Linked DNA regions of Homo sapiens. The protein of the gene in region 4 purifies or fractionates together with the protein of the main gene of each other region. This does not show direct contact. Each region holds a gene or a part of one and is shown on either strand. Other genes may lie near its edges. The genes, in order: DDX50, CHLSN, ZNF777, PRKRA, TRIM56, NOC3L and STAU2.

Evidence for each region.
Region 1: the proteins of PRKRA (region 4) and DDX50 purify together in Homo sapiens (affinity purification with mass spectrometry; 2 studies listed by BioGRID and IntAct, with this or other methods). This does not show direct contact.
Region 2: the proteins of PRKRA (region 4) and CHLSN purify together in Homo sapiens (affinity purification with mass spectrometry; one large-scale study listed by BioGRID and IntAct). This does not show direct contact.
Region 3: the proteins of PRKRA (region 4) and ZNF777 purify together in Homo sapiens (affinity purification with mass spectrometry; one large-scale study listed by BioGRID and IntAct). This does not show direct contact.
Region 5: the proteins of PRKRA (region 4) and TRIM56 purify together in Homo sapiens (affinity purification with mass spectrometry; one large-scale study listed by BioGRID and IntAct). This does not show direct contact.
Region 6: the proteins of PRKRA (region 4) and NOC3L purify together in Homo sapiens (affinity purification with mass spectrometry; 2 studies listed by BioGRID and IntAct, with this or other methods). This does not show direct contact.
Region 7: the proteins of PRKRA (region 4) and STAU2 purify together in Homo sapiens (affinity purification with mass spectrometry; 2 studies listed by BioGRID and IntAct, with this or other methods). This does not show direct contact.

Annotation. Positions count from the first base shown.
Region 1 is NC_000010.11:68,914,815-68,918,314, forward strand, and holds part of DDX50 (ATP-dependent RNA helicase DDX50), read left to right. Parts: intron 1-3,500. UniProt on the Homo sapiens protein: ATP-dependent RNA helicase that may play a role in various aspects of RNA metabolism including pre-mRNA splicing or ribosomal RNA production.
Region 2 is NC_000007.14:1,009,017-1,013,092, reverse strand, and holds part of CHLSN (protein cholesin), read left to right. Parts: intron 1-2,792; exon of another isoform or gene 2,793-2,861; intron 2,862-2,949; coding exon 2,950-3,143; intron 3,144-4,076. UniProt on the Homo sapiens protein: Hormone secreted from the intestine in response to cholesterol, where it acts to inhibit cholesterol synthesis in the liver and VLDL secretion,leading to a reduction in circulating cholesterol levels. Acts through binding to its receptor, GPR146.
Region 3 is NC_000007.14:149,457,837-149,462,708, reverse strand, and holds the start of ZNF777 (zinc finger protein 777), read left to right. Parts: upstream 1-1,646; 5' UTR 1,647-1,894; intron 1,895-2,120; exon of another isoform or gene 2,121-2,562; coding exon of another isoform or gene 2,563-2,679; intron 2,680-4,872. UniProt on the Homo sapiens protein: May be involved in transcriptional repression. Inhibits cell proliferation through CDKN1A/p21 induction by down-regulation of NIBAN1/FAM129A at low cell density.
Region 4 is NC_000002.12:178,437,432-178,441,507, reverse strand, and holds part of PRKRA (interferon-inducible double-stranded RNA-dependent protein kinase activator A), read left to right. Parts: intron 1-1,264; exon of another isoform or gene 1,265-2,641; intron 2,642-4,076. UniProt on the Homo sapiens protein: Activates EIF2AK2/PKR in the absence of double-stranded RNA (dsRNA), leading to phosphorylation of EIF2S1/EFI2-alpha and inhibition of translation and induction of apoptosis.
Region 5 is NC_000007.14:101,091,603-101,095,678, forward strand, and holds part of TRIM56 (E3 ubiquitin-protein ligase TRIM56), read left to right. Parts: 3' UTR 1-4,076.
Region 6 is NC_000010.11:94,345,640-94,349,715, reverse strand, and holds part of NOC3L (nucleolar complex protein 3 homolog), read left to right. Parts: intron 1-337; coding exon 338-466; intron 467-3,159; coding exon 3,160-3,291; intron 3,292-4,076. UniProt on the Homo sapiens protein: May be required for adipogenesis.
Region 7 is NC_000008.11:73,547,433-73,551,508, forward strand, and holds part of STAU2 (double-stranded RNA-binding protein Staufen homolog 2), read right to left. Parts: exon of another isoform or gene 2,169-4,076; intron 1-2,168. UniProt on the Homo sapiens protein: RNA-binding protein required for the microtubule-dependent transport of neuronal RNA from the cell body to the dendrite.

The DNA.
Region 1 (3,500 bases), on a different chromosome or scaffold from region 4:
AGTGTGAGACCAGCCTGGCCAATATGGTGAAACTCTGTCTCTACTAAAAATAGAAAAATTAGCCGGCCTGGTGGCGGGCCCCTGTAGTCCCAGCTATTTGGGAGGCTGAGGCATGAGAATCACTTGAACCCAGGAGGTGGAGGTTGCAGTAAGCTGAGATTGCGCCACCGTACTCCAGCCTGGGTGACAGAGGGAGACCCTGTCTCAAAAAAAAAAAAAAAAACCACAGAAGTCAGAAGAAGAATCCATAAAGGAAAAGGTTTATAATTTTGACTCCATGAAAGTTAAACCAATGGTATGTTTAAAAAAAGAATTAGGGCCGGGCGTGGTGGCTTACGCCTGTAATCCCAGCATTTTGGGAGGCTGAGGCAGGCGGATAATGAGGTCAGGAGATCGAGACCATCCTGGCTAACACGGTGAAACTCCATTTTTACTAAAAATACAAAAAATTAGCCGGTCATGGTGGCGGGCGCCTGTAGTTCCAGCTACTCGGGAGGCTGAGGCAGGAGAATGGCGTGAATCCGGGAGGTGAAGCTTGCAGTGAGCCAAGATCGCGCCACTGCACTCCAGCTTGGGTGACAGAGCGAGACTCTGTCTCAAAAAAAAATAAAAGAAAAAAAAGGCTGGGTGCGGTGGCTCACGCCTGTATTCTGAACACTTTGGGAGGCTGAGGCGGGCAGATCACGAGGTCAGGAGATCGAGACCATCCTGGCCAACATGGCGATACCTCGTCTCTATTAAAAATACAAAAACTAGCTGGGTGTGGTGACCCGCACCTGTAATCCCAGCTACTTAGGAGGCTAAGGCAGGAGAATTGCTTGAACCCGGGAGGCGGAGGTTGCAGTGAGCCAAGATCGTGCCACTGCACTCCAGTCTGGAGACAGAGTGAGACAACATCTCAAAAAAAAAAAAAAGAAAAAAGAACTAAAGGTAATATTTACCGTATTTATGACAGGCAACTAGGTAACATGTCATCTTTCTATTTAATAGATGCATATATATGTGTATGTAGGAAAGACTAGGTGACTAAGTGAATAGTAGTATCTGCAGAATGTAATGCAGTGGTTAAAAACAATCAGTGATAAAAACCAAATTATACAATGATGTATACAAAAATTACACTATTTTAAAAAATAAATAGTGCTAAATGGATTCCTTAGGCATTTATGTAAATATACAAACACAGGTTGAAAGAATAAACATCAGATAATGATTACTTCTGGGAAGGGGCATGCTGGATGGTAAAAAGAAGCTTTGTGGGCCGGGCGTGGTAGCTCATGCCTGTAATCCCAGCACTCTGGGAGGCCGAGGCGGGTGAATCACGAGGTCAGGAGTTCGAGACCAGCCTGGCCAACATAATGAAACCCTTTCTCTACTAAAAATACAAAAATTGGCTGGGCATAGTTGCGCACGCCTGTAGTCCCAACTACTCGGCAGGCTGAGGCAGGAGAATTGCTTGAACCCAGGAGGTGATAGTTGCGGTGAGCTGAGATTGCGCCACTGCACTCCAGCCTGGACAACAGATTGAGACTCTGTCTCAAAAAAAAAAAAAAAAGAATAAGAAAAAAGAAGCTTTTTTATTTTGTAATGGTTGAAAGTTTTGCAGTAAGAATGTAAAATGTATAGTAAAAAACAGTTGATAAGAACATTTTCAAACATATAAAATTGAATAGTAAATTGAATAGAAAGATTGAATAGTATAAAGAACATGATATACCCATTACCTATTACCAGTCTTTAACAATGATCTTTTCTTCACCCCTGCATTTGAAACAATCCCAGTCATCATTTTATCTTCAAGTAATTGTATGTATTTCCAAAATGATAACTAAGGGCTCTTTAAAACCACAGTCATTATCAGTAGAAGAAAAACAGTAATTTTTTTTGAGATGGAATTTCACTCTTGTTGCCTAGTCTGCAGTGCAATGGTGTGATCTCAGCACGCTGCAACCTCCACCTCCCTGGTTCAAGTGATTCCTCCTGCCTCAGCCTCCTGAGTAGCTGGGATTACAGGCGCCCACCACCACACCTGGCTAATTTTTTGTATTTTTAGTAGAGACTGGGTTTTGCCATGTTGGCCAGGCTGGTTTCGAAATCATGACCTCAAGTGATCCGCCTGCCTTGGTCTCTCGAAGTGCTGGGGTTACAGGCGTGAGCCACTGCGCCTGGCATAGTAATTCTTTAATATCATTAAATACCTAGTGTGCACATTGCCCTTGCTGTCTTTTTTAAATAGTTTGTTTGAATCTGGATCCAAATACAATTCTTGACGTTGCTACTGATTGATATGCGTCTTAAACATTTTATAATCTATAGTTCCTTTTTTTTTCTTTGCAATTTTCTGTTGAAAAAACTCATTTGTTGGCCAGGCGCAGTGGCTCACACCTATAATCCCAGCACTTTGGGAGGACGAGGATGGTAGATCACCTGAGGTCAGGAGTTCGAGACCAGCCTGACCAACATAGTGAAACCCTGTCTCTACTAAAAATACAAAAATTAGCAAGGCATGGTGGCACGTGCCTGTAGTCCCAGCTACTTGGGAGGCTGAGAAAGAAGAATCGCTTGAACCAGGAGGCGGAGGTTGCAGTGAGCTGAGATCGTGCCACTGAACTCTAGCCTGGGCAACAGTGTGAGACTCCGTCTCAAAAAACAACAAAAAAACTCATTTGCCTTATGAGTTTCCCACAGTCTGTTTTGCTGATTTGCATCCCTGTGGTTTTTATTTTTCCTTATTTTTTTACTGTTAACACCACTCAAAGATGTGGTGGGTTTTCTTGTTTGTTCGTGTTGTGTTTTTGTTTTTGTTTTGAGAGTCTTGCTCTGTCGCCCCGGCTGCAGTGCAGTGTGGCATGATCTCAGCTCATTGCAGCCTCCACCTTCCAGGTTCAAGAGATTCTCCTGTCTTAGCCACCTGAGTGGCTGGGACTACAGGCATGCGCCACCATGTCCGGCTAATTTTTGTGTTTTTAGTAGAGATGTAGTTTTGCCATGTTGGCCAGGCTAGTCTGGAAGTCCTCACCTCACGTGATCCACCTGCCTCCGGCTCCCAAAGTGCTGGGATTACAGGTGTGAGCCACTGTACCTGGCCTCCCCGTAAGTATTTTAACATACATATCTTTTTTTTTTTGAGATGGAATTTCACTCTTGTCGCCCAGGCTGGAGTGCAGTGGCGCAGTCTCAGCTCACTGCAACCTCTGCCTCCGGGGTTCAAGCGATTCTCCTGCCTCAGCCTCCTGAGTAGCTGGGATTACAGGCGTCTGCCACCATGCCCAGCTAATTTTTGTATTTTTAGTAGAGATGGCGTTTCACCACGTTGGCCAGGCTGGTTCAAACTCCTGACCTCAGGTGATCCACCCGTCTCGGCCTCCCAAAGTGGTGGGATTACAGGCATGAGCCACTGCGCCCTGCCTATATATATCTTTAACTAGAGTGCCATATTTACAGTTTTTTAAATTGAGGTAAAATTCACATAACTAAAACTAACCATTTTAAAGTATACA
Region 2 (4,076 bases), on a different chromosome or scaffold from region 4:
CCACGCCCGATCCTGGCGGCCCCACCACCCTCCCGCGCTGCTCCCATTCCCCACGACCTGCCGCGGCCTGTGCCCTCCAGCCTGCCTGGACCTGCTGCCTCCCGCCCCCTCCAGCTGCACACCCTCCCGGGGCCCGCCTGTGTCATCCCAAGATAGCTGAGGTCGCTCACGTCGTGGTCACAGCCTTGGGGAATTGCCTGGTCCAGGACAGTGAGCGCGAGCATAGGGCGGCCGATGGCACGGAGTGGAGCCGGCACCCCCAAGGCAGCGAGCGCGAGCACGGGGCAGCCGATGGCGCAGAGTGGAGCCGGGCACCCCCAAGGCCCCTGGCTCTCCGGGCGCAGCACCCTCACTCCAGCTGCCCCTGCGTCTTCTGTTGAGGCCCAGCACAGAAAGCAGGAGTTTGGAAAAGTTAAAGGTGCACCGGCCAGTGTCAGGCACAGCCCAGGGCAGTGGGTGGCACTCCTGAGCTTCCCACCTCGTGGCCACAGTGGCTCCCTCGGGGACACGGGAATTGGGCTGTGACTCCTGCCAGGTCGGGAGCGCTGGTGGCCAGAAGCAAGAGTGGGTGTGAAGGAAGCTGTTTCCGCAGCATCCAGGCTGGTGCCTGACACAAGAAGCAGCCCTGCACCGGGCGCTCAGGAAGCCTGCGGGAAACAGCTGGGCCTGCGGGTCCCCGGCTTGGCCCCGATATGGGACGGCCTGGGTTCCCCTCGCCATCCACCCCAGGCCAGCGCCCACGTTGCTGTTGCCCACAGCCTTGGCCCCGTCCTCACCACTCTGGCCACCAACCTGGGACCCTACCACAGGGCCCTGCCCACCTGCTCAGGGCCTGTCCGGGTGCCCCACGCATGTGGGCTGACAGACCCTCGGCCACCGCGGCGGCCCCTGTGCAGCCCTAACAGTGTTATGGACTTTGGCCCGTGTGATCAGCCGTGGACTGCGTGGCCCATGGAGTGGGGGCCGAGGCTGGGCCTGTGCCAGGAGGGTTTTTACCTTTCAGGGCCAGTTGTTGTGCCTGCCCCGTTGGCGGCTGTGGGCGGCTGTGGGCCTAGGAGGTGAGCATGGAGCTGGTTGGAGCCGGTCAGTCACCAGGCTCCCCTGGGGGTGTCCACATCCCCACCATGAAAATCTTGCTCCCCAGAGCCCTGCGTGCCTGGCCTGGTGGGTCTCAGAGCTTCCTGCCTGTGTGTGTGGGCGGCCCAGGCCTTCCCACCGGGACTCTTCAGCCTCTCTGTGCCAGGCATCTGCCAGGGACGGTGCTCCTCGTCCCCCAGGCCCTGTCTCTTGCTGCGGACCCCTGGCAGGCTCTAGGGGTGTGGCTGTGGGTGTGTTGGCGTGTGTGTATGGTGTTTGTGGGTGTCTGTGGGCGTGTGTGGGTATCTGTGGGTGTCTGGGTGTGTGGGCATCTGTGGGTGTCTCTGGGTGTGTTTGGGTATCTGGGTGTTTGTGGGTGTCTGGGTGTGTATCTGGGTGTGGGCGTGTGTGGCTGTGGGTATGTTGGGATGGTGTGTGGATGTGTTTGGGTGTGTTTGGGTATCTGGGTGTTTGTGGGTGTCTGCAGGTGTCTGGGTGTGGGTGTGTCAGGGTGTCTGGGCGTGTGAAGGTGTGTCTGGGTGTGGGTGTGTCTGGGTGTCTGTGGGCGTGTTTGGGTGTGTGGGTGTTTCTGGGTGTCTGTGGGTGTTTGGGTATCTGTGGGTGTCTGGGTGTCTGTGGATTTGTTGGATGTGTGTGGGTGTCGGTGTGTGTGGTTGTATGTGGGTGTGTGGCATGTGGGGGTGTCTGGGCGTGTGGGTGTTGGTCTATGTGTGGGTATCTGGGTGTGGGTGTGTTGGGTATGGGTGGGTGGGTATGTGGGTGTCTGTGGGTGTGGGTATGTGTCCGTGTCTGTGGGTGTGGGTGGGTGAGTGTGGGTGTATGGTGGGTGTGGGTGGGTGTGGGTCGGTGTGGGTACATGGGTGAGGGTTGGGGGCTGTGTTTGGCTGTAGGGGTGAAGTCTGTGAATGTGTGTGTCTGTGTCGGGGGGGTGGGTTGCATATATATCTGTATGTAGGGGGGCTTGCCTCACTCTTCTTTGCTCTCCCTGGGGTGGGATGCGTAGGCGTGGGCTGTGCCCGGCCTCCCTTCCTGGAAGCTCCCGGTGGGCGCTGCCTGGTTGATTCCCACGCCCCTAGCTGTTTCCCTGGGCTCCTGGCCTTGCTCGGAGTCTACACTGATGTTCTGACTTTTCCAAAAAAGACGAAGCATGTGGACAGCGGCTGGGGTCACCTCATGGTCACCCCGTGGCCCGGCTGCCCCGGCTTTGACGCTTTGCACCGTCCTCTTCTTTTGTTAATGAGGGGAGGGTGGGCAAGACGGAGGGCCTGTGCTTTCCTGGCAAGATGTGGCTGGGGACACATTGTCACAGCGGGCCCTCTCCCTCCCTTGGGGGTCTTGGCCCCCTCCCTGTCCCCAGCCTGCAGCCCAGGGGGAGCCAGGCAGCCAGTGACCTGCCAGAAAGCAGCAGGCCCCAGGCACCGTCCTCGGGATTTGGGTCGGGTCTGGGGCCAGCACCTGGCCTGTGTGATAACAGACACCAGCACACCTTCAGCCCTCCCTGGGGGCCGGCCCGGATCTTCCCACACTGTGTGGGGTGGGGCAGGACCTCACAGAGCCTCGGGAGCCGGGAGTCTGTGGGAGGTGGACCACGGGGGTGGGGAAGGGGCCTCTGGGCAGTTAATCCTGGCACCTGGCGCCTGCCCGCAGGACTGGCCATCCTCATGTGACCTGTCTGTCTCTTCGTCGTAGCACAGGCTTAGCAGGATGGTGTCGGCTGGGGCCAGACCCAGTGCTTGGGGACAGAGCTTTTGGCCACTACTGAGGTGAGGGTGGGCTCGGGAAGCCCCAGGCAGCGCACCCGTCTCTGGATACCCTCCATCCCCGAAGCCTAATGTGTTCCTTGACTTTCAGGGCGAAGCTGTGCTCAGGCCCGGGCTGGACGCAGAGCCAGAGCTGTCCCCAGAGGAGCAGAGGGTCCTGGAAAGGAAGCTGAAAAAGGAACGGAAGAAAGAGGAGAGGCAGCGTCTGCGGGAGGCAGGCCTTGTGGCCCAGCACCCGCCTGCCAGGCGCTCGGGGGCCGAACTGGCCCTGGACTACCTCTGCAGGTGAGCGGCCCTGCCCCACGCGGTTCTGTCCCGGACGTGCGTCTCAACCCCTGCCTGAGGGGGTCGAAGCCTTCACTCGCACACACTGTGTGGAAGGTTCTAGAGCAGTGAGGTATGAGCGTTCATGCCAGGCCTGTGCTGCCGCCGCTGCCCTTTCTGTCTGAATGGCCCAGAGCCTTCAGGAACTTTCAGGGGCGGCAGCAGAGCCGCTGCCCGTGCAGGGGTTGCCTGGAACTGTGCTTTTAGAAATGGGTCTGATGGTGAACCTTGCCCCAGGTGTACGTCACCACAGGAAGAATCCACGGGCCTGGGTGCTGCTTGGACGTGGGGGTGAGGAGGAGGGAACTCGTGGTGGCCTTCAGCCCTCACTCACAGTGACAGGAGGCGCCACTGCCACCCAAGAGCGGGAAGACGGGGATTGTGGGGTGCTGGGCACAGGGTGCCATCTCCCTGGCTGCCTGCGGCGTGGCTGGGTGGATGGTGCCTGCGGCGTGGCTGGGTGGACGGTGCAGGATTGCAGGGGTCAGAGGCTTTGGCGTGGGCTCCACAGCCTTGCGGGCTGTGGCCACCTCCCCGGCGCTTACCAGCACAGGCTGCTGCCCGTTCCTGTCCGTCTCCCTGAGTGCTGACTGCACCTAGAATAAGGGGTGTCACGGCGTCCACGTGGCTGGCTTCCTCAGAGACAAGAACTGGGTCCCTGTGATGAAGTCACCCTGAGGGGCAGGGTGTCCTGTGGGGGCACTGGCCCTGCCTGGGAGGACAGGCTCCAGCCGCACCTCTGTGGGAGGCCCTCGGAGAGATGACCTCCTCGGAGAGATGACCCCCAGTGTGGCTGTGCAGCTAGCGGAATGAGCAGCGGGGCCTGCGTGGATGTGCACGCTGCGTGCACGTGCACGTGTACGTGTGTGCATGTGTGTACGTGTGTGCATGTGT
Region 3 (4,872 bases), on a different chromosome or scaffold from region 4:
ATGTTTGGTGATATGATTAAGATCCAGAATAGATTTTTAATGAAATACCTATAAGCCAATAAGAAAAAGATCTCACAACAGAAACATTGGCAAATGATATGAAGAGGAAATTCACAGAGGAAGAAACCAAATGTCAGTAAACATGAAAAGATGTCCAACTTCATTAATCAGGGAAATACAAATACAAATTAAAATAATGAGCTACCATTTCACAGTCATCATGTCGGCAAACGTTCTGAGTCCATTATCAGTAAGTATGAGCCAGGATGGGGAAAGAGAAAATCACACGATAGTGGGTGTGTAAGTAGGCACCATCCCTTCAGTGAGCAGTTCGGGAAGCCGGGGAAAGATGAAGGTGCTCTTGCCATCCAGAGTCCCATGTCTAGGCGTCTCTAGAGACGCACTTTAGCAGTGCACAATGAGACATGCATGCAGATGTCGCTGGCAGCAGGTTTGTTCTCATTCCTCTAGGGGGAATGGAACGTAAACTGTAGTTTATGTATTCAATGAAATACTATATTGTGGGTAAAATGAATGAACCAGATATTCTTGTTTAAACATGTCTGTATCTCAAAAACAAAATGACCCATGGAAAAAAGCAAGTTGCAACAGGATAGGGACTGGATAATATCATTCACATAAAATGTAAAAATACCAAAACCAGTAGTGTGCATTGTTTACGAATGCACACATGTTAGTTAATGCATAAAGACCTGGGTGAGAACTCTAGCCTCCGGGAAGGGAGGGGACAGGATGCATAGCTCTGGCCTTACCTCTATCTGTAACTTTCCTTTTTTTTGTTTTTTGAGACGGAGTCTTGATCTGTCCCCTAGGCTGGAGTGCAGTGGGGCGATCTCGGCTCACTGCAACCTCTGCCTCCCGGGTTCAAGAGATTCTCCTGCCTCAGCCTCCCAAGTAGCTGGGACTACAGGGCCGCGCCACCACGTCCAGCTAATTTTGGTATTTTTAGTAGAGACAGGGTTTCATCACGTTAGCCAGGTTGGTCTCGATCTCTTGACCTCGTGATCTGCCCACCTCAGCCTCCCAAAGTGCTGGGATTACAGGCATGAGCCACCACGTCTGGCCATAACTTTCCATTATCTGAGCTGCCAGCATACTGAGTCCTGTTGCCTTCCAAGACCAGCTCCACTCCTGGGGTTCCATTAGGTAAACACAATGTCCTCTGCTCCCCCCCGCCGTCTTCCCTCACTTAAGTTAGTTCCAGTTGGGCTTCATCGCTAGTAACCAGGACGCCTGCCTATAGTTTCTTCTTTTTTTTTCCTTTTCAATTCATCCCCAGTTCTCGCCACCTCGTAGGTATTCAATTAATACATGTTTAAGTGGACCTGTCCAGGAAGGGGAGTTCTCAACTCTAAGCTCCTGCATTTCTTTTGGGACTTCTCATGGTTACAAAGAGCATTCATTCATACTGTGACTGAGGGTAAACAAGTCGCTGCCCACTCGGCCTCAGTTTCCTCCTAAATGACCCGTCTGGCCACTTCCAGCCCCAGCAGGGTCTGATTCTAGGAATTCGGTCCTTTCATGTCGAAAACAACACTCGGGCATTTCACAAAAGCACCCAACCCCCTGGCTCCCCTTGGAAGCACAGCCCGCGTCCCTGGAACCCGGGCTGCACTGAGCTGGTCACATGAACTCCGGGCTTTCTCTGGTGTGACGGGTTTCTTAGATCCCTTTGTGAGCGCAGGTTTTGAAAGGGAACGACCCCGGGTTCTGGGTGTGAGAGGCGCAGGGGATCGGCGGGAGGAAGGCTGTCGGAGCCAATCAAGCCGCCTCCAGACCCCAGCACGTCGCCTGGGCTGCGCGCTCCGACTGCGCCTCCGCCCGCGCGCCTCCCGGCCTCGCCCGAGGGTGCCTGGGCAGGCGAGGACCCCAGGTGAGAGGCCGGAGGGTCCTGGAGGGTGGGAGGCCCCGGCGGTTCGGCCCGGGCTCCACGACGGGCTGGCCCGGGCTCAGGGCGTGTCCGTCGCCGCCGGGCGGCTCGCTCGACACTGTTCGCTCCTACCGGCTGTAGATGGAGCTGTCTGGGTTCCGGCAGCCTCCGACGAGCCTCGGAGTGTTTCTCTTTAAACGGCCTGAGAGGGACATGCCTCCCAGGATGCAGTTTGTAGCAACATGGCAGCTGCTGTGCAGCTCCCCTGCTAAAGAGGCGCCGGGACGGCAGCGCAGCTCGCAGCCGGGGCCGGGGCCGGAGCTGGGGTCCCAGCCGCGGCCGCAGAGGGGCGGCGCGCGGGCCGGGGGCCGCCGTTGAGGGCCGGGGCCCAGCTCGCCGCCGGGACGCAGCCGGCCGGGCCGCCCGCACAGCCGCGCGCCCAGCTCCGACGCCGCCGCTCGGGCTCCGCGACCCCGCGCCCGCTCGCCCCGCGCGCCCCGAGCAGGCCGGGGCCCGACGGCCGCGCGCGAGCCCCGGCGGGGAAGACAGGGCTGGGCCGGCGCCGCCTGCGGAGAGCGCCGGGCGGCCGGGCCTGCGTGGGGCCGCGCGCAGTAGCGGCGGCGGCAGTAGCGGCGGCGACTCCGGGGGCCCGGGCCGGACAGCGCAGGGCCATGGCCGAGGCGGCCCCGGCTCCTGTGAGGGCGGCCCGCGCGCGCACGGACGCGCGGCCTCGGGGCCCCGGGGACGGCCTGCGTGTCCCGGGCTCGGCGGCCCGGCCTGGGATCTCGGTAAGGGGCAGAAACGCTACGACGTTGGCGCGGGGGGTGGGGGCGCCCTGGAGGGGGCCCGCGCGTCTTGACCCGGGCGGTGGGGGAGGGCTACGGGCCTCGCCGCCGTCCGTGCGAGGGAGGCTGCTCTCACGCCCGGCCCGGCACACACGCGGCCCCGAGGTGGGGCGCCCGGAGGCGCGCTCGCTCCCTGCGGGGCCCGCGCTGCGTCCGTCGGGGTAGCCGCCGGCACGTTTTCCGCAGAGCTCGGCCCCGCGGAGCCTTCCCCGGCCCGGGCGCGGCGCTGACGCGGCTCTCCCATTTCGCAGAACGGAGACACTGAGGCACAGACACCTGGCGGCGACCCGCCCTGCCGGCCCCAAGGTCACGTAGCAAGGCATCCGTGGCACGGTGCGGCAGCCCCAGAAAGGCCTGCCCAGAGGGCTGCGGGCCTGGACGGGGAGGGGGTGGCTCTGGCGGCGGCCGCCCCTGGGTGAGGGGCTGGGCCGCCCTGGCAGCGGACGCGGCCCGTCGGGGGCGGCGGGGGAGGCCGGGCAGCGCCCAGCTGGGCATCTCCGCGGTGGGAGCAGGTGACCCTCTGAGCTCCAGCCTCTGCCTCCGGCCTCTGCGTCTGGAAGGTCGTAGGCTAAACTTTGAGTGCCCTGACAGATGGTGTCTGGGGAGTAAGCTTCTCAGGGGTTGGGGGCTGATGTTCCTCTTCAGGAAGACACTCTTAAAAAATCATCCCTCAGATCCTCCCGCAGACCTGCTCTTTGAGACGCCCTGGCCGTGCTAGTGAGAGGATTACTGCATGGGAGTCAGTGCCTTTGAGCCTCAGTTTCCTATTGTGTACACAGGAAGGAGGCAGGATATATAGCTTTCTAAAAAGCATCCCAATTCTTTAATCAAAAAAAAACTCATGAGAAAATAAAATCAAACGAAGATGTTTACATGCCTTACTCTGGGCTCAGGCCTTCGGGGCCCTTGAATGGTATATAATGCTGGGTGAACCATACTGGGTCATTCAAAAAAATGCCATGACTTTCTTAATAAGTCAGATACTGTGGTTATGGATGCTTCTGCTAATGTGGCATGAATCCTGGAGAATCCATCCACTCCTGATCCGTCGGGGAAGGAGGGACCGTTAAATCCTACAAATATGGTTCAGAAGAATTCTCCCTCCAACCCCCTACCAGGAATTTGAGAATTTGAGCTTATTCGTTTTAGGTATATTTACAGCTCCCTCCCTCTCTTTGGTCATTTCTTTCTGCTTAGGGTAAGATAAGCGGCAGGTTTACCGGGATGGATTAAATTATAGCAAAGGGCTTTTATTTGGGAGGCGAGGGAGGGAACACCCTCCTGTGGCCCCTCTACAGTCCTCCAAATCCGGAAATGGAGAGAGACAGTCTAATAATAGCAAAGAAATAGTATTTTCCTTTGAGCTCTGATTTGTCTAGCTGGTAAAGATGCCTTGGTCTGCTGGCTCTGTTTACTATACTGGAGGGTTTTGTTTTGTTTTGTTTTGTTTTGTTTTGTTTTGTTTTGTTTCATTGTTTCAGTTAAACCTCTGCATTACTCAGAGAGACTAACTTGCTCCCCAGGGATTTTTTCCTCTTCTTCTTTCTAGTGCTAGGCAGATACCCTAATCTCCCTCTAAGGCAAGGGCTGTAATGTGCCTATTGTGTTGCGTTAGGCAGTCACTTTCCCTGAGAGCCAGGCGCCTAGCCTCCAGGGCCCCCAGCGCTTCCTTCACAGGGAATGAAGAGTTCAGAGGTGGCTTAGCTGTTGATGAGCCTGCAGGTTTAGGGGTCTGTGAGCTCCTTGAAGATGTCTGCAAAATTCTGTGTATGTGCCCTTTTGTCTTTTTTGAGGACAAGAACCCAAAACTTTCATTAGGTTTTCAAAGAGGTCCCTGACCCCAACTTAAATGATAATATCTCTAAAGGCAAGGCCTTCCTCCCCACCTCTCCCAACCCTATCAAACCTGCCACAGGTCTTTGTGTATAAATAATATCCAGGCCTCGGGATTTTAGAGGTAAAAAGGATTCAGAGCACACACCTGCCTGGCCAGCTGCCTCAGTTGACAGTTAAGGCCTCAAGGTAGCCTGCAGGCTGTGGAACCAGACCACTGGGTGACCTGGGGCAAGTTGCTTAGTCTCTCCTGTCCCCAGTGTCTTCCTGTACTAAGTATGGATAGTAACTCTAGTAGTACCT
Region 4 (4,076 bases):
TTTAGAAATCTCTTCATTATTCAGTTATACCCTACCCCATTTTTAGCTGCTTCCTGTTTGTGAGTCAGGATCACAGAGGCAATTAGGTAAGAGAGCTTGGGAGACACAGTCAAATTCAGAATAATAGGACGGGATCTAAAGATGATAGGCCAGTAGTGCCATTTTTGCCTTCAAAGTGACAGCGCATTTCCATCCCTTTGTTTGTTCATTCATTCACTTAGCAAACATTTAGTGAGCTCATACTGTGTGCTAAGTGTTGTGTTGGGTACTGGGGTGCAGTGAATAAGCAGTCCCTGCCTCTAAGGAGTTTATAGACTACTGAAAGGAAGGAATTCTATAGGCTAGTCCTTACAGAGTGTGATGTGGGAACATAGAAGAAGGCATCCAACAAAAACAGGTTTGGAGACAGATTCCAGGAAGAAGTAATGTCTAAGCCAAGACCTGTAGAATGGGGGAAAAGAATTCCAGAGAGAAGAAAAAGCGTGTGCAAAGGCCAGGAGTGAAACATCGTATGCAGTCTAGGAGCCCTAAGTGATTTGTTGTGTGTAGAACATAGTGTTGGAGGGAGGGAGTCTCAATGAGGCCAGCAAAGTAAAGAGGGATTAAATCTTAAAGGGACCCCTATATAAGGAAAGTGAACTTTATCCCAAGGGTAGTACAAAGTCATTAAAGAATTTTAATCTGGGAAGGACAGGATCTAGTCTATACATTACAAGGAAATCACTTGGCTGCATTATGGTAAGTGAGTGAAATTAGGATCAAAGAGACCTGCGAGAGTGCTGTTACAGAAGACACGTGAGACATGACAGCTTGAACTAAGGTAGTGGCTGGGAAAATGGAGAGAGATGGGTAGATTTTAAAGTTATTTAGAAAACTGAGGTAAAGGGGCATGGTAATTGATTGGATGTGGGAAGCAAGGGAAAGGGAGGAAATTACTATTTTAAACTTGGCAATAGCAAGAGGGGAGCAGATAATGAACTAAATATATTGAATTTGAAGTGCTTATGGAATAGCTTATGGAATAGCTAAGTGAATATATCGAGTAGCTGAACAAATAAATTCAGAGCTTAAGAGATTGGCCTACACATGATATATAACTTCAGATTCTGATATTCACAGATAGGTGTGTCATGTGGTACATTATCTGAGAGTAGTGTATTAGGTGGGAAATAAAAAAGTACAACTGTAGCAACTTCTTCACTGAGCTTATGATAAAATAAGGGCTCATTCTTTAGAAAAAAATCAAAGACTATATACAAATGAGTAATATAATTTGATTTTACATTTTTAATAGAAAAATATAAAACACTGCATTTACTGCTTTTGGAATTTGAGTCAACAGTATCACCAAAATTACAAAGCACAGACAGATTTACAGGTGAAATTGGTTAAATCTTCAAAGAAGAGATCATTTTCAATGCTATTTAAACTCTTTTCAGGCAATGTATAGATAACATAAAGGAAACTTTTAAATTTATTCTCCAAAACCAACATAATACACCAAAACCTGACAATAGCAAGTTCAACAGAAAAAAAAAAATTACAGATCAATATGCCTTATGGTGAAACACCTTTGTAAAATGTTCAGTACAATATTAAAATAATGATATAGCATTGACAAGTAGGGTTTATTTAACTAAGACTATTTCAAGGTTAATAAGTTGGTTACTTTAATTAACCACATTAATGTGTCAAAGAGTAATATATAATCCTCTCAATGGATGCCAAAAAAATTTTGATAAAACTCAGCAATCATTACTGATAAAAACTTGGAAAAAAACCAAAATCATGGTTATATATTTATACATTATACTCATTCCCATTAATATCAGAAATAAGGACGCCCACCAACACCACTTTTATTTAACCTTGTTCTAGAAGTACCCACCAATTAAAAACAAATTAGACAAGAGAAAACAGTACGAAGTTGGAAATAAGAGGAGATAAAATGGTTACTAACTGCAAATGGTATGATTGTATCCCTTTAAAACCCTAAAGAAAAACTACTAGAAACAAGAGAATTCATCAAGGTAACTGATTATGAAATTAATATACAAAATCAATAACTTTTCCATATTGCCCAGAGTTATGTAGGTAACAACCAGAATAATTAAAAATAAAAAGCTAAAAATTATTGTATCTGGGAAGGGGACCTGAAGGTGGAGAAGGGGCAAGGCAGAGGTTGTTGCTTTTATACTTCTGTACTATTTGATTTTTTGCTGTATGTGTGTATCACTTTGACAAAACTTACGAAGCTTCATAACATTGGTCATTTTATAGAAAAATAGAAAATCCTATTCTGAGAAAATATACTAGAAAAAAGTCAGTAGTTTTCTTATTTACAAATAATAACTAGAATATAGAAGATCCCAATTTAAATTGTAGACAGGGATAGGCTATATGAAAATAAACTTAGAAAGAAATGCGTAGGACCACGTGAGGAAAAGTCTACTAAAGAATAGAGCAGAAAACATTGTAAATATATTTAAATGTAATGTGGTCTCACTCAAAACCTACCAGCGTTTGGCCAGGCACAGTGGCTCACGCCTGTAATCCCAGCACTTTGGGAGGCCGAGGTGGGCGGATCATGAGGTCAGGAGATAGAAACCATTCTGGCTAACGCGGTGAAACCCCGTCTCTACTAAAAATACAAAAAAAAAAATTAGCCGGGCCTGGTGGCGTGCGCCTGTAGTCCCCGCTACTCCGGAGGCTGAGTCAGGAGAATGGCATGAACCCGGGAGGCGGAGCTTGCAGTGAGCAGAGATCCACGCCACTGCACTCCAGCCTAGGCGACAGAGTGAGACCCCAACTCGAAAAAAAAAAAAACCTACCAGCGTTCATTTTGGACCTTGATACACGTTTATTGAAGTTTATCTGGAAAAAAACCCTCAAGAATAGCCAAGAAAACTGAAAAGGAAGAGTTGGGAGAGCAAGGGTGTGCTGCTTTACTAGAGAACAAAACATACTGTAAAACTGAACTTGTCAGACAAGTTACTGGGCCAGGAATAGTCAGAGGAGCGAATAGAGAATCCAGGCGTAGATGCTAATCCACATAGGACCATAGTATATAGCAACAGTGAGATTTCAGATCAGTGGGTGAGAGGATGGATTATTCAATAATGATGTAGAAACAGTTTACATCCACATTTGGGTGGGGGCTATATATATATATTTGTTGATGTGTATGACATCTATTTAGAATGCTTCCTTATTCCTTACACCAAAGTGAATTTCAGATGGATCAAAGATTTGAACATAAAAATTTGAAACAGTATAAATATTAGGAAACATGGAAGAGTTTTTCTTTTTAAAAATCTTAGCATGGGGAAAGCATTTTAACTTAAAACCTAGGTTAAAAGATTAATACATTTGACAACATAAAACCTACTGCACAGCAAAAAATCTGTAAATTAAGACAATAAAAAAGTGGGAAGAAATTATTTTCAACATAGAACTATAAAGGAACTGTTTTCAGTACTACCTTTAAAGCTCTTTTGTACACATCTGCTGCACACAGCAGCACATGCCTGTAGTCCCAGCTACTCGGGAGGCTAAGGTGGGAGGACTGCTAGAGCCCAAGAGTTTGAGAGTTAAGCCACACAGCAAGATCCTAACTCTTAAAAAAGAGAAAATTTAAAAAGCTCTTATGCATCAGTTAAAAAGACAACCCAGTAGAAGAAATGCAAACGATTAAGGGAAAAAAAGAAAAAATATTCAACTTTATTCATGCAAGATAAAATATTTTCACCTTTTAGATTGGCAAAAACTACAAAATTTGATAATAGCTGGTATTAGTGAGGGTATGAGAAAACAAGCCCCCTCCAAGACAGTTGGTAGGAGTATAAATTGGTTCAGAAATCAGTTTGGAAGTATTTATCAAAATTAAAAGTGTACATGTTCTTTGACTTAGCAGTTCCACTTCTAGAAATAATTCTACAGAGAAACTCATTCAAGTGCAAAAGAGTGTTTATTGCTAGTAAAAGCAAGAAACTAGAAACAACCTAAAGCTCACAGTTGGAGATCCGTAAGGTAAATACAGTGCATATATGTGCACTGATAAAAGAAAAATGAACAAG
Region 5 (4,076 bases), on a different chromosome or scaffold from region 4:
TGTAATCCCAGCTACTTGGGAGGCTGAGGCAGGAGAATCATTTGAACCCAGGAGGTGGAAGTTGCAGTGAGCTCAGATCGCACCATTGCACTCCAGCCTGGGTAACAAGAATGAAACTCCATCTCAAAAAAAAAGAAAAAGAAAAGAAAGAAAACCAAGGTCCCTCTCCCTCTCCCTCTCCCCACGGTCTCCCTCTGCCTCTCTTTCCATGGTCACGGTCTCCCTCTGATGCCGAGCCGAAGCTGGACTGTACTGCTGCCATCTCGGCTCACTGCAACCTCCCTGCCTGATTCTCCTGCCTCAGCCTGCCGAGTGCCTGCGATTGCAGGCGCGCGCCGCCACGCCTGACTGGTTTTCGTATTTTTTTGGTGGAGACGGGGTTTCACTGTGTTGGCCGGGCTGGTCTCCAGCTCCTAACCGCGAGTGATCCGCCAGCCTCGGCCTCCGGAGGTGCCGGGATTGCAGACGGAGTCTCGTTCACTCGGTGCTCAATGTTGCCCAGGCTGGAGTGCAGTGTCGTGATCTCGGCTAGCTACAACCTCCACCTCCCAGCCGCCCGCCTTGGCCTCCCAAAGTGCCGAGATTACAGCCTCTGCCCGGCCGCCACCCCCTCTGGGAAGTGCGGAGTGTCTCTGCCTGGCCGCCCATTGTCTGGGATGTGAGGAGCCCCTCTGCCCGGCTGCCCAGTCTGGGAAGTGAGGAGCGCCTCTTCCTGGCCGCCATCCCATCTAGGAAGTGAGGAGTGTCTCTGCCCGGCTGCCCATCATCTGAGATGTGGGGAGCACCTCAGCCCCGCCGCCCCGTCTGGGATGTGAGGAGCGCCTCTGCCCGGCCGCGACCCAGTCTGGGAGGTGAGGAGCGTCTCTGCCCAGCCGCCCCGTCTGAGAAGTGAGGAGCCCCTCCGCCTGGCAGCCGCCCCGTCTGAGAAGTGAGGAGCCCCTCCGCCCGGCAGCCGCCCCGTCCGGGAGGGAGGTGGGGGGTCAGCCCCCTCCCGGCCAGCCGCGCCGTCCGGGAGGGAGGTGGGGGGTCAGCCCCCGCCCGGCCAGCCGCGCCTTCCGGGAGGGAGGTGGGGGATCAGTCCCCGCCCGGCCAGCCGCCCCGCCCGGGAGCGAGGTGGGGGGCGCCTCCGCCCGGCCGCTGTCCCGTCCGGGAGGTGGGGGGTCGCCTCTGCCCGGCCGCCCCGTCTGGGAGGTGAGGAGCCCCTCTGCCCGGCCACCACCCCGTCTGGGAGGTGTACCCAACAGCTCATTGAGAACGGGCCATGATGACGATGGCGGTTTTGTGGAATAGAAAAGGGGGAAAGGTGGGGAAAAGATAGAGAAATCAGATTGTTGCCGTGTCTGTGTAGAAAGAAGTAGACATGGGAGACTTCATTTTGTTCTGTACTAAGAAAAATTCTTCTGCCTTGGGATGCTGTTAATCTAAGACCTTACCCCCAACCCCGTGCTCTCTGAAATATGTGCTGTGTCCACTCAGGGTTAAATGGATTAAGGGCGGTGCAAGATGTGCTTTGTTAAACAGATGCTTGAAGGCAGCATGCTCCTTAAGAGTCATCACCACTCCCTAATCTCAAGTACCCAGGGACACAAACACTGCGGAAGGCCGCAGGGTCGTCTGCCTAGGAAAACCAGAGACCTTTGTTCACTTGTTTATCTGCTGACCTTCCCTCCACTATTGTCCTATGACCCTGCCAAATCCCCCTCTGCGAGAAACACCCAAGAATGATCAATAAAAAATTAAAAAAAAAAAAAAAAAAAGAAAACCAAGAAGATGGGAAAACCATGCAGAATTGATTTGACGAGGAAAGCCTTGGTCTCTAATACATGCAATGACTAGAACAGTATTTGGTCAAAGAACCACATAAGCTCTGTACCCTGGAGGAAATGTATGCAGGCAAGGACTAGTAAAATAAAAAATAATAATAATTAAAAAAAAAAAAAAGAAAGGCTGGACGCGGTGGCTCACACCTGTAATCCCAGCACTTTGGGAGGCTGAGGTGGGTGGATCACCTGAGGTCAGGAGTTTGAGACCAGCCTGGCCACTACGGTGAAACCCCATCTCTACTAAAAATACAAAAATTACCCGGGTGTGGTGGCGCATGCCTGTAATCCCAGCTACTGGGGAGTCTGAGGCAGGAGACTCGCTTGAACCTGGGAGGCAGAGGGTGCAGCGAGCCGAGTTCACCCCATTGCACTCCAGCCTGGGTGTCACAGTGAGACTCTGTCTCAAAAAAATAATAAATAAATAATTAAATCCACTTGCAGTGGTCAAAAATAAATGTTAAATAAATGGGTGAGAAATCTTGCGGAGAAATAGACTCCTGGCACTATAAAAATGATCCTGGAGAATAATTTGGCTAGACTTTGCAAGAATGACAAAAATGATTATAAGAATCAGTTGTCTCACTTTGGGGAATACATTCTGGGAAAATAATGTAAGAGAAAAAATATTTGCATACAGACATTTGAGGCTGCTCTGTATATTACAGGCAAGAACTGGAAACTGTTCGGCTGCAGGGTGACAGCTAACTAGATTGTGGTTTATTAGGGGAATGAGCCTTTCTTTGTGTATGACAACTATGAAAACTATTGAGAAGAAATAGTTACGTGATACAGTCATAATCCTCAAAAACGGAGAATCAGGAATTATGATCAAATAGTGATAGTAACAAGGAAAACATCTGTCTAAATAATTACTGAGTAGAAATAGGTTCGGAATTTGTAAATAGTCATTAATTTGGGAGATTGGGGTTTTTTTTGTTTTGTTTTTTGTTTGTTTTTCATTATTTTGTGCTATTATTCATACGTGTACATTTCTACTTCAGTTTTTATTATCCATTACATAACATACATGCTTGATTATTTGCTTCAAGGAAATACACCTTTATAAGTAATACTCAATAACTACTGGGTTTGAGAATGAAGGTGTCAGAACGAATGAGATTGTCCTATGAAAGAAGAGGCAGGAGCCAGGGAGGAGGATCCCACCCGGCCGGGGCTCAGCCAGGAGGCAGGGCCATTGGGGCAGGGTGGCAGTCCAAGGAACCGCTCTGGGAAGGTTTGCAAAGGTCGGGGTCCCCCCTGCCAGGTGATCGAATTATCGTGGAGTGTCTGGAAGGCGGGGGAAGTTTTGTTGAGTTCACCAAATAACTCAGACCAACTGGAAACCAAGTGGAGTTTCTACAGGACCAACTAGAATAGGGATCAGCTACATGGGGGCGGGGGGAGGGGGGCAGGGAACGGTGTCTGTCTTCATTGCAGCTCTGTCTGCAGAGCCAGCACTGTGATACCTCATAGTAGGTGCTCAGTGAATGTCTGTGAAGTGAATTACTATCTAGACAAGGATGAGACTGGTATGACTCTCCAAAGCTTTCCCACCTCCAAAACCTCGGCTTGTGGGGAATCTCCAGTAGGGGGCACTGTGGACACGGTTCGCATCTGCCTCCCAAGGCTGGGCTCCGCGTCAAAAAAAAAAAAAAAAAATGAGACTGAGCCAGGTGCAGTGGTCACTCCTGTTATCTCAGCACTTTGCGTGGCCAAGGCGGGAGGATGTCTTGAGGCCAGGAGTTCAAGACTAGGCTGGGCAACATAGCAAGACCCCATCTCTACAAAAAAATTTTTAAATTAGCCAGAGGTGGTGGCATGCACCCGTAGTCCCAGCTGCTCGGGAGGCTGAGGCAGAAGATTGCTCGAGCCCAGGAGTTCAAGGCTGCAGTGAGCTCTGATTGTGCCACTGCACTCCAGCCTGAGTGACAGAGCAAAACCTGGTTTCCTAAGGGGGGGATAAAAGAGGGAGAGATGAGATCGGGGTGTCCCGCTTCTGTGCATGTGGAGGGGGTAACTGGGAACCGTGTACTGTAGGGGATCGCACACCTTGGGGTGGAAACAGCAGCTCTCCGGAGTTGCATGGGAGCCATGGGCAGTGGTCCTGGCTGGTGAAATGATTCTAGCCACGTGGCCCACCCAGGGGGCAAAACAATAGAAACCTTCAGAAATGAAACGTCACCTGGCTGCAAGAAGATAGTCCCACAGGCGCCCTAGAGATGGGGATGCCAAGTGGCTTCTCGGGAAGCTGTA
Region 6 (4,076 bases), on a different chromosome or scaffold from region 4:
ACAAAATTCTTCTGAAGTTATTTATTGGTAAAATAATGTCAATTTATTAAACACTGTCTATCTGAAGAAAATTATCTGAACATAAGTTTGGTGTAGTGGTTCACAACAGGAAGCAAATTTGTCCCCCAGGGAACATTAGGCAATGTCGGCATACATTTTTGATTGTGATGACTGTGGTGGCGATAGAGTCTTAACTACTGGCATCTAGTGGAGAAAGTCCATGGAGGCTTTTAAACATCCTAGGACAGTCCCCCTACAACAAAGAATTCTGTTACCCAAAACGTCAGTAGTGCTAAGGTTGAGAAACACTGGTTAAGTATGACATTTTATTTTTCAGATATCTGAAATGTGTTGTGAAGCTGTGAAGAAACTCTTTAAGCAAGATAAATTAGGCCAAGCTTCTCTTGGTGTAATTAAAGTGATTTCTGGTTTTGTGAAGGGCAGAAATTACGAAGTTAGGCCAGAGGTGAGCCTTTTTTTTTTTACTTTGCATTTTGTTTTTAAATTACAAAGTTGATTTTCAGTTGTTATGAGGAATTTATTCCTTATAAGTGTATGAAGTAAAAAGTATTCAAGCTCCTTAAGTGTTTAACATGTCAACTCCTGAAATGTTTGATACTATTAACAGTTCGGTATTTATCCTTCTAGATGTTTTTCTTTGCAGATATAGTCATATATACTTGCTTATATTTTAAAATAAAAAATGGGCTTATACTTTGAAAACTGTTCTGGAACAGTTTTCATTTTCTATATTGTGAACTTACATATAGGGTTATCCCATTCTTTCTAATGCCTACCAGAGTATTCCATTGTGTGCCCTAATTGTTGAACAGCTGAGTTTTTTCTAGATTTTTGCTGCCACAGTCAGTGTTGAGAACATTTTGGCCATATTATTTTTTCATATTGTGTGAATATTCTGTGAATTAAATTTATAAAATGTAGATGCTGGATCCAACAGTAATCACATTTACAAACTCAAATTGTTGTTCAAAAACATTTAATCACTGTGTTCCTGCTAGGAATATGAGTGTCAGTTCCCTCCTACCTGCTCAGAATGTTACTATTTAATCTTTGTTAGTCAGGTAGGTGAAAAGTTTATATATATATAAACTTTTTTTACCTGCTTATTATTTGTCAGTTTTTCTCTTAAAGTAATTGTCTTAATGACTTGTGATGAGTTTTTAGTACATATTCATTTTAATAAATAACTGCTATGTGCCAGGCACTTTTTTTAGGTCCTGGGAATAAAATAGTAACAAAAGAAACGAAACTATCTGTTTGTGGAGCTTGCATTACATAAAGAATATTAACTCTTTGTTACATAGGTTGCAGATTGTTCTCTTTTTTACTTTGCCTTTTAATTCTGTGTTCAGCCTTATATATGAAGCTATATTTTTTGTTATGCACATAGTCTCCTCAATCCCAATTTACGGAGTCTCTCCGAGATTTTTAATTTTAATTTTTATATTTAAATATTTAAACCATTTGACATCTTTGTATGTGTGGTATGAGTACAGATTTAATATCTGTGTTTAATATATGTAATGAATATATATTTTATATAGTTTAATATATATTGAATATTTATATTATGTATATATTTGATATAATCTGACAGCCAGTTATTTCATCACCATTTTTTTTCTGCTGATATAAAATGCTGCTTAATTATTGTGTTATATCTATAGTATATTTGGGTATGTGGTACAATAATAATCAGAAAGGGTATAATTGATAAAAGACATGACTATTCTTTTTTCTCCACAATATTCTTATTTATTTCAGTATATTACTCCAGGCAGTTTAGAATCCATTTTTCACTTCCTTCCCTCAAAATAGTCCACACAGAGAATCTGATTAGAATCGATTCAATGTATTGATTAGTTTGGATGAATTAAAATATTTACAGAATTGATTTTTTTCTATTCAAGAATATCATATCTTGCCATTTATTTAAGACTTCTTTTATGTTCTTAAGTAAAATTTTATAGTTTTCTTCACTGAGGTCTTAGATATTTTAATTTGTCTTTAGTAATACAGTTTTGGGTGTTAAGCTGTTCTACCATTTTATTTCTGGATTTCACAGTTTTCCTTTGGCATCAGATTCCTTTTTATTTTCTTAAATCTGATTTCAGTTGAATTGCTAAAATTATAAACATTAAATGAAAGTAACAGAGCATATTTAGCATCTTTACTTAGAATTGTAGAGCAATCAGATAAGGCTTGAACATGAAACTCAGCCATAGGAAAACCCTTTAACTTTCGTGATGCTAGAGTAAAAACTACATCATTTGATTTGGAGTTATTTTTCGTTGGTAGGTGATATTTTGAGCACATACAGTACCTACAAAATATTCAGAGTTGGTCTTTCTGATACCTAGAATGACTTCAGGTTCACTCTTTATGCCTTTAGTTATTCCTTGTTTCATTCTGTGCTTTTAGCCGTGTAATCCCAAATACTCAGCTTTCTTCCAAATGTGCATATTGGAACATCAAAATAATACAAACCTGTAGTTCTCAAGGTTTTTTCCAGGAATGCTGCTGTGCCTGCGGGAGGTCGGTAGGGTGATTTCATCCAGAGAAAGTGTAGCATTTTAAACCCCTTTTGTTCTTAGTGTTTGAGTATGCGAAGTTTGCTGTATCACACAAAACACCAGTTTCCAAATTAGTTTCTGAATTTTTGAATGGCATAAAGCAATAATTTTTATTTTTGTCCCCAGACCAGCATCAGCTGGGAATTAGAATGCAAATTCTGGGGCTCAACTCAGACCTACTAAATCAGAAACTCTGGGGATAGGGCCCAGCAATTTGTGTATCTTCTCCCATACTGGTCCAAACCTTTTCCTGGCCTGTTTTCTCTTTGTCATCCTGTTGGCATGTGTTCTCTCTTCCTTATACTCATTAAACTGCAAAGAAAGTTTTGTATATTTAGTTAGTATTTGCTAGCGTCCGTTTTGTATGTTTGCTCCCGTCCTTCCATAGACACAAGTTATTAATATAGCATACAGATAAAAGAAGTTGGTGTAAAATGTTATAAAAGATGTTTGAAGGTTTTTTCATGAACGAGGGAAATAACACTGTTAAATGCTTTTCTATGTAAAGTTTTTGAGGGCAATATAAATATTAAGCTGTATATTTGTGTTTTTTTTCCAATATTAGATGTTAAAAACATTTTTATGCCTAAGAATCAAGGAAGTAGAAGTGAAAAAAGATACAGAAGACATTAATAAACCAAAAAAATTTATGACTTTCAAAGAAAAGAGAAAATCTCTATCAAGAATGCAGAGAAAGGTTTGACTTATTTCCCCTTTTGTTTCATTTAAATTTTCTGTTTATTTGATCTTAGATTAAACTTATAGGCACATGTAAAAATCATAGTTAAATCATAAACATAAAAGTTTTGAAATACATCATTTAGAGAATTTTATCTTTTCCTGTTACTGCAAAGAAATGTTTTCTTAAATCAGTTTTAACTGATAATGATTGGCAAGGAGAGCAATAGATGAAAAGATATTTTTGCCATGCTGGCTTTTATCCTTTGGCTTTTTAGATCAATTTAGAGTTATGATACACAGATTCCTTCCTTAACAGAAAAGATGCATTCACGTGAAGTTGGCAGCAAAGTGAGTTTCTGTTAATTGAATCTTGTTTCTTTGTTGGTTTGTATTTTAAACTTGGGTTGAAATTTCAGCCGCTTGTTTATTTACTGAAACTTTGGAAACTTTATTTATTTATTTATTTATTTTTTGATAAACGGGGCTAATAATAGTACCTACCTTGCAGGGTAATCGTGCAGGTTAAATGAGATGATGCATATAAAACACTTGGCAGGCTTTATAAACCTTAGTTTTAGTACCACCACCATCATCACTATTATTGTTATCATCACATCTCAGAACATTTCTAAACAGTTTATTAGAGTGATCAAGTTGCTTGTAAAAACAAAAGTAATCTCTGGGGATATTCATCTTTGAATGGGTCTAATTTTGAAAACATGATGGAAGTATCAAAATAGACTTAATAATTGTGAACAAAAGAAGATACATATTTTAACTATTTATATTATACTATCCTAA
Region 7 (4,076 bases), on a different chromosome or scaffold from region 4:
ATGTTTGCATATCCCTTGGACTTTGGCCTGCATATCAAAGTCTAAGGACACCAGACACAACAGGTCAGTTTGCATGAACTGGGGCTGCCCACTGGAATAACAAACCTGAGTGTTAATGTCACTAAAGGAAGACCAAGCCTTCAAGAGAGTTCTAACACATACTTAAGTCTTTCCAAGGTCCTTGGAAGGTAGTAGAGGTCAAATTCAAGAGAGCTTTTTAAGAATTTTTAAGATTTTAATGGCAAATCAGAGCAGTATCTGCTGACCAAACCCACAAATGTGTTTTGCTCATTGTAGTCTAAGTAATTTATTATGGTTTTATACATTTGTTTAATAGCCTACATGAACATTTGGTCTCAGAGGCAACACAGTAAGTTATGTTTCAATGACAAATTAAAAATAAGGGAAAACACACAGTTGGGCCCTCCATATCCATGGGCTATGCATCCAAATATCAAAAATATTAAAAAAGAATTGAAAAAAAACCACAAAAAAGCAATATGGTATAACCATTATTTATATAGCATTTACATTATATTAGGTATTATAAGGCATCTAGACATGATTTAAAGTATAAGGGAGGATGTGTGTAGGTTATATGTAAATACTACAACATTTTATATAAGGGACTTGAGCGTCCATGAACTTTGGTATCTTTGGGGGTCCTAGAACCAATCCTTCCTGCAGATACCAAGAGACAACTATATTCCTAAATGTGGGTGTGTATGTACATGCATTATTTCTTTCTCCATATTCTCCTAAGAGGAATTTACAAAATTGTACTTGTATTGATCTCCTAACAAAAATGAATACCTTATTCTAAAAAAAAAAAAAAAGCTGCTGCAAATAGCCACCTTGATGATAACTATATGGATTGGAAAACATGAGGTATAGGAGAGATAAGAATAAATAGGTGAAAGGTTGATTCTCAGATTCTCAGGGAGACCAGCCACCACCCCCCCACTTCCACCAGCCCCATCCCAATATAACCTATACTAAGTCATATTGTTAAAAAATAAATACTTAAAAGAAGCCTGTGGCTATAAAAACCTGCTATCATCATATTAAACTCCACAAAAGGAGGCATATGAGTTGAAATGTATTCAGCGTGAATTATATTTGAAAAGGAAGATTTTAATTTAAGTGGACAATCTCATCTTGCTGGAAATGGCATGATTATGATCAATAATGAAATGCCCCTCCATAAAACACTCCCTGATTTTGGACAATAAACTAATTATAGTTTAACTAAAACACCAACTAAGTGTTTCTTTATATTATTTATGTGAGGGAAAAAACCTAGTTTGTTACACTATACTCGGAAGGTTTCACAAACAACACTGTTACAGTGGATGATGCTCACAGGAGAGGCACAGAATAGCAAACTGAAATGAAATCCATCTAGAAGGGACGATTTGCTAAAATAATCCACTTTCATTTTCAACCTAATTTTTAATGACTAGTTTAAACAAAGAAACCACTTATATTTATAGATTTCTAATATAATTAGCATAGAAAAGCATATTAAAGATGTGAAAACTTAAAATAATGCAAAGTACAACATGAAACAAATTCTTTCACTTCAGCTCAAATGCACAGCATTTCAAGAGTGTCTTTTGCATAATAAGTTTCTTTAAAAAGCTGAATGATTTTGAAACATTTTGCCATTATAGTAAAAGTGTACACAACAAGGAACCCTGAAACACTATGGTAGGACTACAACTTTGAATGAGTTCTTATAAAATGTGTAGAAGTTACAGAAGCATACGATTAGGCTGAACAACAAAGTCTGAAGTTCACAGAACTACTGAATAAAACATTTAAAAGAATATAAATAAAACGTATTAATACTTGATAAAACTTGAAAGAAATAAACATTCATTTCTGACAGAGATCCAAAAGGTTCGATTCTAAAATACGATAAAAACTTTAGGTGAGACCAAACAAGAATAACAGAACTGCTGAGAATGTGTAAGTGTTCGGTCACATTCTGCTCTCTTAAGTCAGTTTTATTAATAACTTTAATTGTATAATAATTTTACCTATTTTGTAGGTTTAAAAGAATTTGAGCTTGGATACCTACATTCAGTTGATCAAAGTAGCTTTTTGTAATTTATAAATTCAAATTAAAGACTGGGTGATGAAACAAAATTAAAAGTTAAAACAACTTTGTTTTCAATACACTCATATATTTTTACTTTGTAATACAATATAGCTGTCACATACAATGGCTCTAGTAGGCTTAAATCAAATTGCAATGGGCAAGGAAAGCCAAAGAAGGGTTTACACAATATTCAATAAGCAACAGTATCTGTTCAGTGTGCAATAAAATAAAAAAGTTCTAACCTAGAAACACAGAAAAAGAATTTATTGTTTTTAAGTTTCAGAAATAAAAGTAACAGAATAGTGTATAATCTGTAACAAGCTGGTCCTGTAATTTCTAAACTACAGTCCAATTAAAACATTTAAGTAATAGAAACAATCTACATGTTTTTCTACCAGGTAAATATACCTGAGAGGGTTACCTATAAAGAAATAGGCTTTAAAACTTTTAACCACAAAGAACCTTCTGCTGCGACATTATGAAGATGGGCTATGCATGTGGCCAGACTAAGTCATTTCCCGGAGATTCTGCTCACTGCTTAGCTGCAGGTAGTGGTCCATCAATGACAGAGTATTTTACATCAATACCAGCTCATTCAACCAAAGAAGCACAGTAATATTTTAAAATCACCTGTTTATATTCATTAGTATGTAAAAATCACAATACACAGATTTGGAAACATATAACGTGTCCATAAAAAAGAGTATATTATGTAAGCATAAGCTTTTTAAAAAGGCCTTAGCAATGCAATAATGAGGGAAGCAGACTCTACATGTTGACTACAGTGAAGATATGTTAAAATTATAATTATTGTCATTGCCAAGAGCTTAGAAATAAAAACAAATTTAAAAAATTAAGACATTCTGGTAGCAAAATTACAGCTACTGTAACAACAGCTCCAAGCAAAAAATCAATTCAGAGCTTGAATGCAATTTGTGCTTTGTTTCTATAAGAATGCAGTGTTACTCTCAGACATTTCTAAATGATTAGATTCATAAATAAGCAGTTAATTTCTTTTCATCACAATTTATTTCTAATTCATCCTACGGAGATTATAGATAGAACTAAAAATTACTTAGCTTTTTTCCAGTACTTTATATAAATTGAGATCTTTTTTAAACAGTGATTTATTGTGTTTCTTAAGGTAAAACAACAAAAACAAATTCTAAAATTGTAACTTTAAATTAAGTGGTTAAAATTTCAGATGACAGAGCCGATAACTGGTAACAGCTTCTTGAAGTTCATATTAAGAGTCCAATTAGAAACACTAACAACTACCTGGCAATAGTTTGAAAGAATCAGAAGGGTTCGGTGAAGTGAAAAAAAAATCCGAACATGCAAAATACCCCCCAAAACACATGACCTTCTTTTTCATTTTATAATCTAAACTTGTAAAATATTTATAAATACATGATCATTCTACACAATACAGATCTTCTAGAGCATTTCTAAAGGATATTACAGTTTTTGGTCTTAAGGAATAAAGACTAAGATGGAAAAGGAGATGAAAACAGTGAAATCTGAGGAAGCAATACACTCTCTACACACAAGCAAACTAGTTCATCCAGTCAAGTTAGCGGTTACAGTTCAGTACATGATTTTCAAGGCAACTAAGAAATCAAGACACAGATATTTCCCCTTCCTAGAGTTTACAATTCTTTCAAAAGCTCCAATGTATCCATAAAGGAGTGCTGATTTTTGTGGGGTTTTTTCCCAGAAGGAAACAAAGAATAAATAGGGGAAAAAAAGTTTCCATCCCTAAATTCACATACACAACAAGTTAAGTTAAACTATAAGCTAGTTTTAGACTACCCAGTGAAACAGAATTGTTGGTACTATCTGAGGCAGGTGCTACCCTCCCTAGTCAGTTCAAAACATGATCCAGTAAAACAAATACACATTGTTATGCCTCAAACAACTATAAAGCATTTCATTATTCTTCAAATATCATGTTTAATTAACTCCTAAGGTA